Homo sapiens: one gene and its partners. The protein of the gene in region 2 purifies or fractionates together with the protein of the main gene of each other region. This does not show direct contact. Each region holds a gene or a part of one and is shown on either strand. Other genes may lie near its edges.

The links.
Region 1: the proteins of HGFAC (region 2) and POTEF purify together in Homo sapiens (affinity purification with mass spectrometry; one large-scale study listed by BioGRID and IntAct). This does not show direct contact.
Region 3: the proteins of HGFAC (region 2) and PPP3CC purify together in Homo sapiens (affinity purification with mass spectrometry; one large-scale study listed by BioGRID and IntAct). This does not show direct contact.

The regions. Positions count from the first base shown.
Region 1 is NC_000002.12:130,119,189-130,122,843, reverse strand, and holds part of POTEF (POTE ankyrin domain family member F), read left to right. Parts: intron 1-1,545; exon of another isoform or gene 1,546-2,235; 5' UTR 2,236-2,328; coding exon 2,329-2,849; intron 2,850-3,655.
Region 2 is NC_000004.12:3,447,332-3,449,996, forward strand, and holds the end of HGFAC (hepatocyte growth factor activator serine protease isoform 2 preproprotein), read left to right. Parts: intron 1-160; coding exon 161-300; intron 301-563; coding exon 564-704; intron 705-796; coding exon 797-945; intron 946-1,905; coding exon 1,906-2,088; 3' UTR 2,089-2,155; downstream 2,156-2,665. UniProt on the Homo sapiens protein: Serine protease that hydrolyzes the inactive zymogen hepatocyte growth factor (HGFsc) to an activated disulfide-linked heterodimer, then initiating hepatocyte growth factor receptor signaling pathway.
Region 3 is NC_000008.11:22,443,971-22,447,625, forward strand, and holds part of PPP3CC (serine/threonine-protein phosphatase 2B catalytic subunit gamma isoform), read left to right. Parts: intron 1-3,655. UniProt on the Homo sapiens protein: Calcium-dependent, calmodulin-stimulated protein phosphatase which plays an essential role in the transduction of intracellular Ca(2+)-mediated signals. Dephosphorylates and activates transcription factor NFATC1.

The DNA of each region.
Region 1 (3,655 bases), on a different chromosome or scaffold from region 2:
TGACAAACTGTTATCTGAAAAATAAGGTAATTCCATTTATAATAGCAACAAAACAAATATATAAGTAAATCAAAGAGCAAGGAGTAATTTTAATGAAGGATGTGAACGATTTGTATACTGAAAATTATAGCACATTGATGAAAGAAATTGAAAGTGACAAATAGAAAAAGTCCTATATCAATTGAAAAAATTAATATTGTCAAAATTTCAATGCTACTCAAAGCATTCTACAGATTAAATGCAACCGCTGTCAAATTCCAATGTCATTCTTCACAGAAATAGAAAAATTAGTCCTAAAATCTGAATGGAACCACAAAAGATGCTGAAAAACGAAAGCAATCTTTAGCAAAAAGAACAAACCTGGAGGCATCAGACTACCTAATCTTTGACAAAGCAAACAAGAAAATGGGAAAGGACACCCTATTCAACATATGCTGCTGGTATAATTGGCAAGCCACATGCAGAAAAATGAAGCCGTTCTTCAAAGGTTAAATACAGAATTACCACATGACTCAGTAAATTCACTCCTATGTATACACCAAAAATAAATTAAAACAAATGCCTTACACATAAAAGTATTTATAGCAACAAAAAGTAGGAAACAACAGAAATGTCCATGAATTTTGGAGTGGATTAATAAAATGTGGTCTGTCCATAAAATAAAATATTACTTGGCAATGAAAAAGAAAAACATATTAATACATGCTCCAAAAAGGATGAACATTGAAAACATGATAAATGAAAGTAGTAAGTCACACGTAACTATATTATTATGATTCCACTTACATGAAATGTCCAGAATAGGCAAATCCTTCCAGAATAGGCAAATTCTTAGGTAATAGATGGATGATTGCCTAGGGCTGGGAGAGGTTTAAAGGAAGAATGGGGAAAATAGGGAAAGATTGCTAATGGGTGCAAAGTTTCTTTTAAGGAGCATAAAAATGTTCTAAAATCATGGTGATTGTTTAACTAGTTAATACACTTAAAAAACTGAATTTTATACTTTAAATGAGTGAATTAAATAATATATAAATTGTATCTCAATGAACCTGTGAAAAAAGTTAAAAAATATGTGGTATGCATAAACAAAAAGTTCTTCATTTTATTTCCTAGGGTTTTGGGGAAAAGGTGGTGTTTGATTATATGAGTAAGTTCTTTAGAGGTGATTCAGGAGATTTTGGTGCACCCAACACCTGTGCAGTATACACTGTATACACTGCACCGGGGCAGGAGCTGGCTGCAATCCTGTGGCCCCAAATGCCCCCTTGCTGATGGCCTCGTGTTCTGGGTGCGGAGCAAAGAGGAGCAGGTGTTGAAGGCACCTCAGGCAGGCCCTGGGCTCGGTGGGCGTCTTGTGCTCCGCGATTTTGAGGCCATTTGCAGCCAGCTCCGTCAGCCCGAGCTCCCAGCTGCAGCTGCTGCCATGCACAACAGCACCGCCAGGAGTGTCCTGGGGGCTTTTTTCAAAGGAGGCTGTCAGCATCCTCAAGTTCCAGACGCTTAGCCCCAGTCCTCCTTTAAGAGGCTTTTTTTTTTTCACCAGAGGCTTCTCAGTGGCTTGAAAGCTCAGCTGACTCCCACGAAGTTTGCCGGAACTCAAGGCTGTCAGTGACATTCGTGGCGCCAAGACTTAAGCAGGCGCGTTGCATGCATCGGCCAGTGTCTGTGCCACGTGCCCTGACGCCACCTGAGATAAGCACGCCGCACGCGCACGCGCACGCCGCGCGCACACGCCCGGCAGCAGCTTGGCTGGCTTGTAACGGCTTGCACGCGCACGCCGCACGCGCATAACGGTTTGGCCGGCCTGTAACGGCTTGCACGCGCACGCCGCACGCGCGTAACGGCTTGGCTGGCCTGTAATGGCTTGCACGCGCATGCTGCACGCGCTTTAACGGCTTGGCTGGCCTGTAGCGGCTTGGCTTGGCTTTGCGTTCTTGGCTTGGCTTGGCGTTGGTAGCTTGGATTGACGTTTCCTGCTTGGATTGACGTTTTCTCTCTCGTGTTCCTTTGCTGGGCTTGACCTTTTCTCTGCTGGGTTTGGCATTCCCTTGGGTGGGCTGGGTGTTTTCTTGGGGGCGGGGGTTGGCCCTTTCTGGGGTGGGCGTGGGGTCGCCCAGGGGGGGCGTGGGCTTTCCTCGGGTGGGTGTGGGTTTTCCCTGGGTGGGGTGGGCTGGGCTGGAATCCCCTGCTGGGGTTGGCAGGTTTTGGCTGGGATTGACTTTTCTCTTCAAACAGATTGGAAACCCGGAGTTACCTGCTAGTTGGTGAAACTGGTTGGTAGACGCGATCTGTTGGCTACTACTGGCTTCTCCTGGCTGTTAAAAGCAGATGGTGGTTGAGGTTGATTCCATGCCGGCTGCCTCTTCTGTGAAGAAGCCATTTGGTCTCAGGAGCAAGATGGGCAAGTGGTGCTGCCGTTGCTTCCCCTGCTGCAGGGAGAGCGGCAAGAGCAACGTGGGCACTTCTGGAGACCACGACGACTCTGCTATGAAGACACTCAGGAGCAAGATGGGCAAGTGGTGCCGCCACTGCTTCCCCTGCTGCAGGGGGAGTGGCAAGAGCAACGTGGGCGCTTCTGGAGACCACGACGACTCTGCTATGAAGACACTCAGGAACAAGATGGGCAAGTGGTGCTGCCACTGCTTCCCCTGCTGCAGGGGGAGCAGCAAGAGCAAGGTGGGCGCTTGGGGAGACTACGATGACAGTGCCTTCATGGAGCCCAGGTACCACGTCCGTGGAGAAGATCTGGACAAGCTCCACAGAGCTGCCTGGTGGGGTAAAGTCCCCAGAAAGGATCTCATCGTCATGCTCAGGGACACTGACGTGAACAAGCAGGACAAGCAAAAGAGGTAACCAGGCCTGGGCTGGGAGGAGGTGGGACGTGGGGGGATGATGGGGACATACCCTCCTGGCGGGGGAGGAGGGGGACCTGGCTTTCTCGCCTCCGCAGGCCTCACACCACCCTGGATGTGGAAACCTCAGAGAGGTCAGGGTACAGGGCCCTTTATGAACAGCAACACAAAAACAAAACTTTAGCTGATTTCCAATCATAATTTCCCTCATAGAACACTAATAGACTGTTTTAAAGTGATTTAACTTGCAAAATTAATTAAGTCAATGCAGCAGATTATTTTTAATCTACAGATTTTAAAACAATGTTCTATACATTATAGAAAAGTGTATATTGAGAACTAAGAACGAAGCCCCATAACACATCAACTTCAGGGCTAAATATTCTTCAAATAAAATCCAGTATGGATTTTATATCAATGTACAGTATGTAAATATGTTCTTTACTGAGGAACCTTAGAAGGAAACTGAAATGGGAAGATGGTTCCTGTGCTTGAACAGGAAGATTGAATTTTCTTAAGATGTGAGCTTTTTGGCTGGGCGCGGTGGCTCACGCCTGTAATCCCAGCACTTTGGGAGGCGGGCGGATCATGAGGTCAGGAGATTGAGACCATCCTGGCTAACACGGTGAAACCCTGTCTCTACTAAAAAATATAAAAAAAATTAGCCGGGTGCGGTGGTAGACGCCTGTAGTCCCGGCTACTCAGGAGGCTGAGGCAGGAGAATGGCGTGAACCCGGGAGGTGGAGCTTGCAGTGAGCCGAGATAGTGCCACTGCACTCCAGCCTGGGCAACAGAGCGAGACT
Region 2 (2,665 bases):
CCCAGTATCAACAGCCCACACCCAGGCACCTGCTCAGACCCCTCCCCGGGACCAGGGTCCCACACCATTGGCCTCCGTGGGCCTGACAGGGGGTGGGGAGAGGTGAGCCCGGTGGCTGGGGGAGGGCTGGTCCATGCAGCCTCCAGCCCCCCTTGCACAGCCCCCCCAGGGACAGCGTCTCCGTGGTGCTGGGCCAGCACTTCTTCAACCGCACGACGGACGTGACGCAGACCTTCGGCATCGAGAAGTACATCCCGTACACCCTGTACTCGGTGTTCAACCCCAGCGACCACGACCTCGGTGAGCTCCGGCGTGTCGTGGCTGCACTCTGGGCAGGTGGGCCCTGTGCTCCCCAGGCCAGGCCCAGACAGGGGCAGGAGCTGGGCAGACATGTGGTGCGGGGGAAGCTGGGGGCAGGGCAGGGAGGACAGGGCACCGCTCCCTTCTGGATCTCCCAGGCTGCCCTGTGGACCCCACTGGCTACCCTCCCTCCACCACGGGCCCCGACAGCCTCCCGTTCAGCCCGCACACCACAGGCTGACCCTGGCCACTCTTCTGATCAGTCCTGATCCGGCTGAAGAAGAAAGGGGACCGCTGTGCCACACGCTCGCAGTTCGTGCAGCCCATCTGCCTGCCCGAGCCCGGCAGCACCTTCCCCGCAGGACACAAGTGCCAGATTGCGGGCTGGGGCCACTTGGATGAGAGTGAGTTGGGAGGGGGGCGCCCAGCGCCCCGCCAGGGTGGACAGTGGCCAGCCACAGTGTGGGTGTCACGCTGAGGGCATTGTGTCCCACAGACGTGAGCGGCTACTCCAGCTCCCTGCGGGAGGCCCTGGTCCCCCTGGTCGCCGACCACAAGTGCAGCAGCCCTGAGGTCTACGGCGCCGACATCAGCCCCAACATGCTCTGTGCCGGCTACTTCGACTGCAAGTCCGACGCCTGCCAGGTGAGCTGGTGCCCGCCCCACCAGGACCCGACTGGTGGGGGCTCAGCTGGTCCTGAGTCTCCGAGATGCTTGCCCCTGGGGAGCCCAGAGCCTGGCGGCACCCCAACCTGGCAGGGCCAGCCAGGGACCCCTGGGCAGGGAGCACACTTACTGTCGGTGGCCAGCACCCCAGGGCCACCCAGAGCCCTGCCGGAAGGGCATCCTCCTCACACAGAAGGGGAGACCCAGGCTCTGAGAGGGGCCTGGGGTCCCACAGAGCCCGGACAGTTCCTGGCTGTCCAGCCCAAGGCAGTGCTTTCCGTGTGACACTAGGCACCAAAGGCCCCTTTGCCCCGAGTTCTCTCAAGCCAGCTCTTCAACCTTCAATAAGTTCTTCAACCTTCAATAAGCCCAACAGCCCAACCACGTCCTGGGCTCTGCAGGCCTGTGTGCTCAGGCGGCACGGCAACCCTGGCATGCGACGGCTCTCTTATGCCCCATTTTATAGCTGGGGAGACTGAGCCCCAGGCAGTCAATTCACTCTTCCAAGGCCACAAAGCCCAGGAGTGGTAGAGTGGGTAGGGCTTGTCACTGGACCTCGATAAGGGAAGTCAGGATGGTTTCCTGGAGGAGGGAGTGTTTGCACTGGTCCTGAGTGATGCGTAGGAGTTTTCCAGGGAGTGAAGAAGTCATTTCAGGAGGTGCTGGGACACAGGGTGGCTGTGTGGTCCACACAGGGTTCATGCTGGTGGGGAGAGGGGGACCGTGGCTTCAGGAAGGGGAATAACGTGGTTGGATGCCCTGGCCCAGCCAGTGCTGCCCCCAGGGAATGAGACACCTTTTCATGAGGTTCAGGAGAGTGGATCAGCTCCCTTGCTCAGAAATGCCTTTGTCCTCTGTCCCCAAGCTGCCACTTGGGGGAGAGGGGGGTCCCTGAACCAGGCCCCTGGGAGGGTGGCTCTGACCAACGTCTCTGCCCAGGGGGACTCAGGGGGGCCCCTGGCCTGCGAGAAGAACGGCGTGGCTTACCTCTACGGCATCATCAGCTGGGGTGACGGCTGCGGGCGGCTCCACAAGCCGGGGGTCTACACCCGCGTGGCCAACTATGTGGACTGGATCAACGACCGGATACGGCCTCCCAGGCGGCTTGTGGCTCCCTCCTGACCCTCCAGCGGGACACCCTGGTTCCCACCATTCCCTGCCTTGCTGACAATAAAGATATTTCCAAGAACCCGGCCCACGCTGCCTGGCCCCTGCCTGCGGCCCCGCCTTCCCCTCCAGGCCATGACTGGGGCCCAGGTCTATGCGCAGCAGGCCTCAGGCTGCCGTTCTGGAGCGCACACAGTCCTCAGTGGAGACGGAGCCTGTGGCCCCACAGCGGGGTCTGGCCCCACGGCCCAGAGAGTTGTCAGGGGATGAGGTCTGGGCCTCTCCAGGCCCCAGCAGAGTCCAGCCCCCTCCCAGGCCAGCCCCAGGCCGGGGCTCAGCACCTGGGTTGTCCCAGGGCAGGAAGTGGAAACCAAGTCCAGGCCCCCAGGCGTGGAGGGGTCCGATCCGCGTGGTGCACGGAGTATTGAACCTGAAGAAGAAAGAGCGGCCCCACGGGAACACCCGCAGGCCGTCGTTGGTCTTCCAGATGGCAGCCCGCCTGCCTGAGCCTGGGCTGCACTTCCCGGGAGGGAGGAGGCCACAGGCTGCCTCTGTGGGGGCTGAGGGAGGGAGGGGCCCATGTGCTAGATGG
Region 3 (3,655 bases), on a different chromosome or scaffold from region 2:
TGTTTCTGTCATTTCCTGTTAACTTTAAAGTGTACCTAATTGTTCTATTTGAGCAAATTTTGGAGAAGAGTGGGTATGTGGGAGAGGTTTGTATTTTAGGTGTCCTTTAAATAGCAGCTTTCTTAAATTGAAGGATGTGGCTGGGCGTGGTGGCTCACACCTGTAATGCCAGCTACTTGGGAGGCTGAGGCAGGAGAATCGCTTGAACCCAGGAGGCAGAGGCTATAGTGAGCCAAGATTGTGCCACTGTACTGTAGCCTGGGCGACAAGAGTGAAACTCAGTCTCAAGCCAAAAAAAAAAAAAAAACTCATCTGTAAAATAGGGTTAATAATACCTTCCCTGTCAAGCCTGGGTCATGCAAGTGACATAAAGCATGTGAAAAGGTCAAGTTAAGGTAGTACTTTGAGACATGATAATAGGTTGGTAATAGATCGCTTACTACAGAAGTAGTTAGTAGAGATATCATTAACATTTGAAAATATCAGAAAGTATGTGAAATTATAAGCTACAAAACTGTTCCTAGTCAGGTGAATACCTATTCTACAGCATAATGGATATGTGGGTGAAATCTCGTCGGTAACAATGTGAAGAGATCAGCACAGTTCTGTCTGGTACTCCCTAGGCAGCAGATTTCTTCTCTATCTGTTGAAGGTGTTTATTTTATGTTTAAACCTTCTTATGATTTTACTCATTCATTAAATGTTTATTGAGTGCCATCTGCAATGTACCCTAGTAGGTTGCTCATTCATTTCTTCTTTGCTTTAAAAGTAGCATTTCTGTGAGCCTTTAGAGCAGTTTATATGCACTGGGGCACCATAACTGGTATCTAAGCCAGAGAACTAGGCACCCAAATGATTAAATTGTGATATTCTGTCTGCTTTATTTTTTTTTCTAGTTTCCACGTTCCTTTTCCTGTTTAAGGACATGTTTTTTCTTTGACAGTGATTTTTATAAAAGCAGTTTATTTCCCTGGAATGAATCTTTTCAGAAGCAACAAGGAAATTTCAGTAGGAATTACATGACAAATATAGAGAATCCATTGTCTTATTTTGTTACTTTATGGCCAGATGGGGTTTAACAGAAAAGTCAGATTTCTTTTTAGTAAGGTGCTGATACATTTCTCCCTTTCTCTTAGAATTCAAATATATTGTGTATTCACAGAGTACTGTACCATTTTTACCACACATGGCAGGCTACTGTTTCTTTAATATCGTGGCACTGGGAATATTGTGCTTATGGCTTTCTTAAAATATTTTAATATTAGTGTGGACAAAAATTGCTATTTCTACAAATATACCCTAAACCCGATTTCAATCTCTGGTACCTATACTTCATTTCTTTCCACAACTCTCCCCCGACTCTCCCTTTTTTATATCCATAATGGATTTACCGAGGGTTTAAAATTTTTTCTCTTAAATATAAGCTTAATCCTGCTACTTATACAATTTGAAAATCAGAAAGGGAAGAAAAGAAAGACTTCATATTCCTTCCCAGCAGAAATAACTGCTTTTAATACCTTTGTGTGTTTCCATCTGCAGGTATATTTTGAATTCAAAGGAAAATGGATCACACATATTAAAGCTTTTGTTATGCAAATATTTCATATTATTTTAACATAAATATTGTAATTTTACCTAAATATTTCCATAATGGTTTCAATCAGCATGGAAATGGTTTTAGAGTGCTTATATTAATATTTTGGTTCTTTATATTTTCAGTGGGGACACATTAGTCACTTGATACAATACCAACCCAGAAGAAACATTTTCAAGTATAAATTTTCAATGTGAATACGTTTTAAAGTTGATATCTCCTGGATTTGTCAACAGTATTTGTTTAATTTATGCTTCATTTACCATTGTGATTAACAAGCTGCCAAACTTTTGAAACATTCAAAATCAGTGCTAATCGAGATTCATACATCTGAGTAGAAATCTGGAACCTCTGAAAGGGCATCTTAATTTAAACACTTAATTTTTTTCTTTTTGAGCAAGGATAAAGTATTCTTTCTTACCTATACGTTATTGGTTGTGATCAAAGCTTTATTTATGGTCTGACATTTGATAATTAAGCTTTCTCTCTTTTATTGCATTTTAAAATAGGATTAAAAATTTTTTTTGCCTTACGTAATTTTTAGTGTACCATAACTTTTACTGGAGTGTATATGGGAAAATGTACAAATTATAAATGTACAGCTTAGTGAGTTTTTACAAATTTAGCACCCACATACCCATGTAACCACTCAACCAAAATAAATAGATTACCAGAATCCCAGAAACAAGCATGAGTTCACGTTCAGTCCACTGGTTTCCATCCCTAAATGGGCAACAGTGGGGAAAATATGACACTTGTAACCATTATTCTGGCGTCTAACGTCATATTTGTAAAGTAACATACTAATCACATCTTACTGTAAAGTGAAAAAAACAAGGGACTCTGAGAGAAAAATGCTAAGGACTCATTACTTAAAGTGAAATAATTAATTAAAGACCTTTTCCTAAGCAGTATTTGATACTAGGAATTGAATGTCTTTCTATTAAGGTAACATTTTTGGAAAAAGCTAATTTTTAGGCCAGGCGTGGTGGCTCACGCCTATAATCCCAGTACTTTGGGAAGCCGAGGTGGGTGGATCACCTGAGGTCCGGCCAACGTGGCGAAACCCAGTCCCTATTAAAAATACAAAAATTAACTAGGCATGGTGGTGCACACCTGTAGTCCCAGCTACTTAGGAGGCTGAGGTAGGAGAATCGTTTGAATCTGGGAGGCAGAAGTTGCAGTGAACTGAGATTGCGCCACTGCACTCTAGTCTGGGTGACAGAGCAAGACTCTGTCTCAAAAAAAAAAAAAAAAAAAAAAAAAAAGCTGATTTTTAGACATGTCTCTATTAGAGACAAAATTATTCATTTAATTCCGGGATTTGTAGTCATTTTGGAACTTTGCTGCTACTTAATTGCTAAATGACTAATGGGAATAAAGGGATGTCTTAGAATCATTACCATCCTTTGGTGCAATCATTACTAGACTATAATGCCCGTTTATAGTTTTTTTTGGTGGGGGACAGGGTCTCGCTCTGTTGCCCAGGCTGGAGTACAGTGGCGCGATCATGGCTCGCTGCAGCTTCAGCTTCCTGGGCTCAGGTGATCCACCTCAGCCTCCCGAGTAGTTGGAACCACAGGCATAGCATACGCCACCGTGTCCAACTAATTTTTTTTTTTTTTTTTTTTTTGTGACAGAGTCTCGCTCTGTCGTCCAGGCTGGAGTGCAGTGGCGCAATCTCGGCTCACTGCAAGCTCTGCCTCCCGGGTTCATGCCATTCTCCTGCCTCAGCCTCCTGAGTAGCTGGGACTACAGGCACCTGCCACCATGCCCGGCTAATTTTTTTTTGTATTTTTAGTAGAGACGGGGTTTCACTGTGTTAGCCAGGATGGTCTCGGTCTCCTGACCTCGTGATCCGCCCGTCTCGGCCTCCCAAAGTGCTGGGATTACAGGCGTGAGCCACCGAGCCTGGCCTAATTTTGGTATTTTTTATAGAGGTGGAGTTTCGCCCTGTTGTTGAGGCTGGTCTTGAACTCCTGGGCTCAAGCGATCCTCTTGCCTTTGTCTCCCAAAGTGCTGGGATTACGGTGTGAGCCACTGCGCCCTGCCTTTTATAGT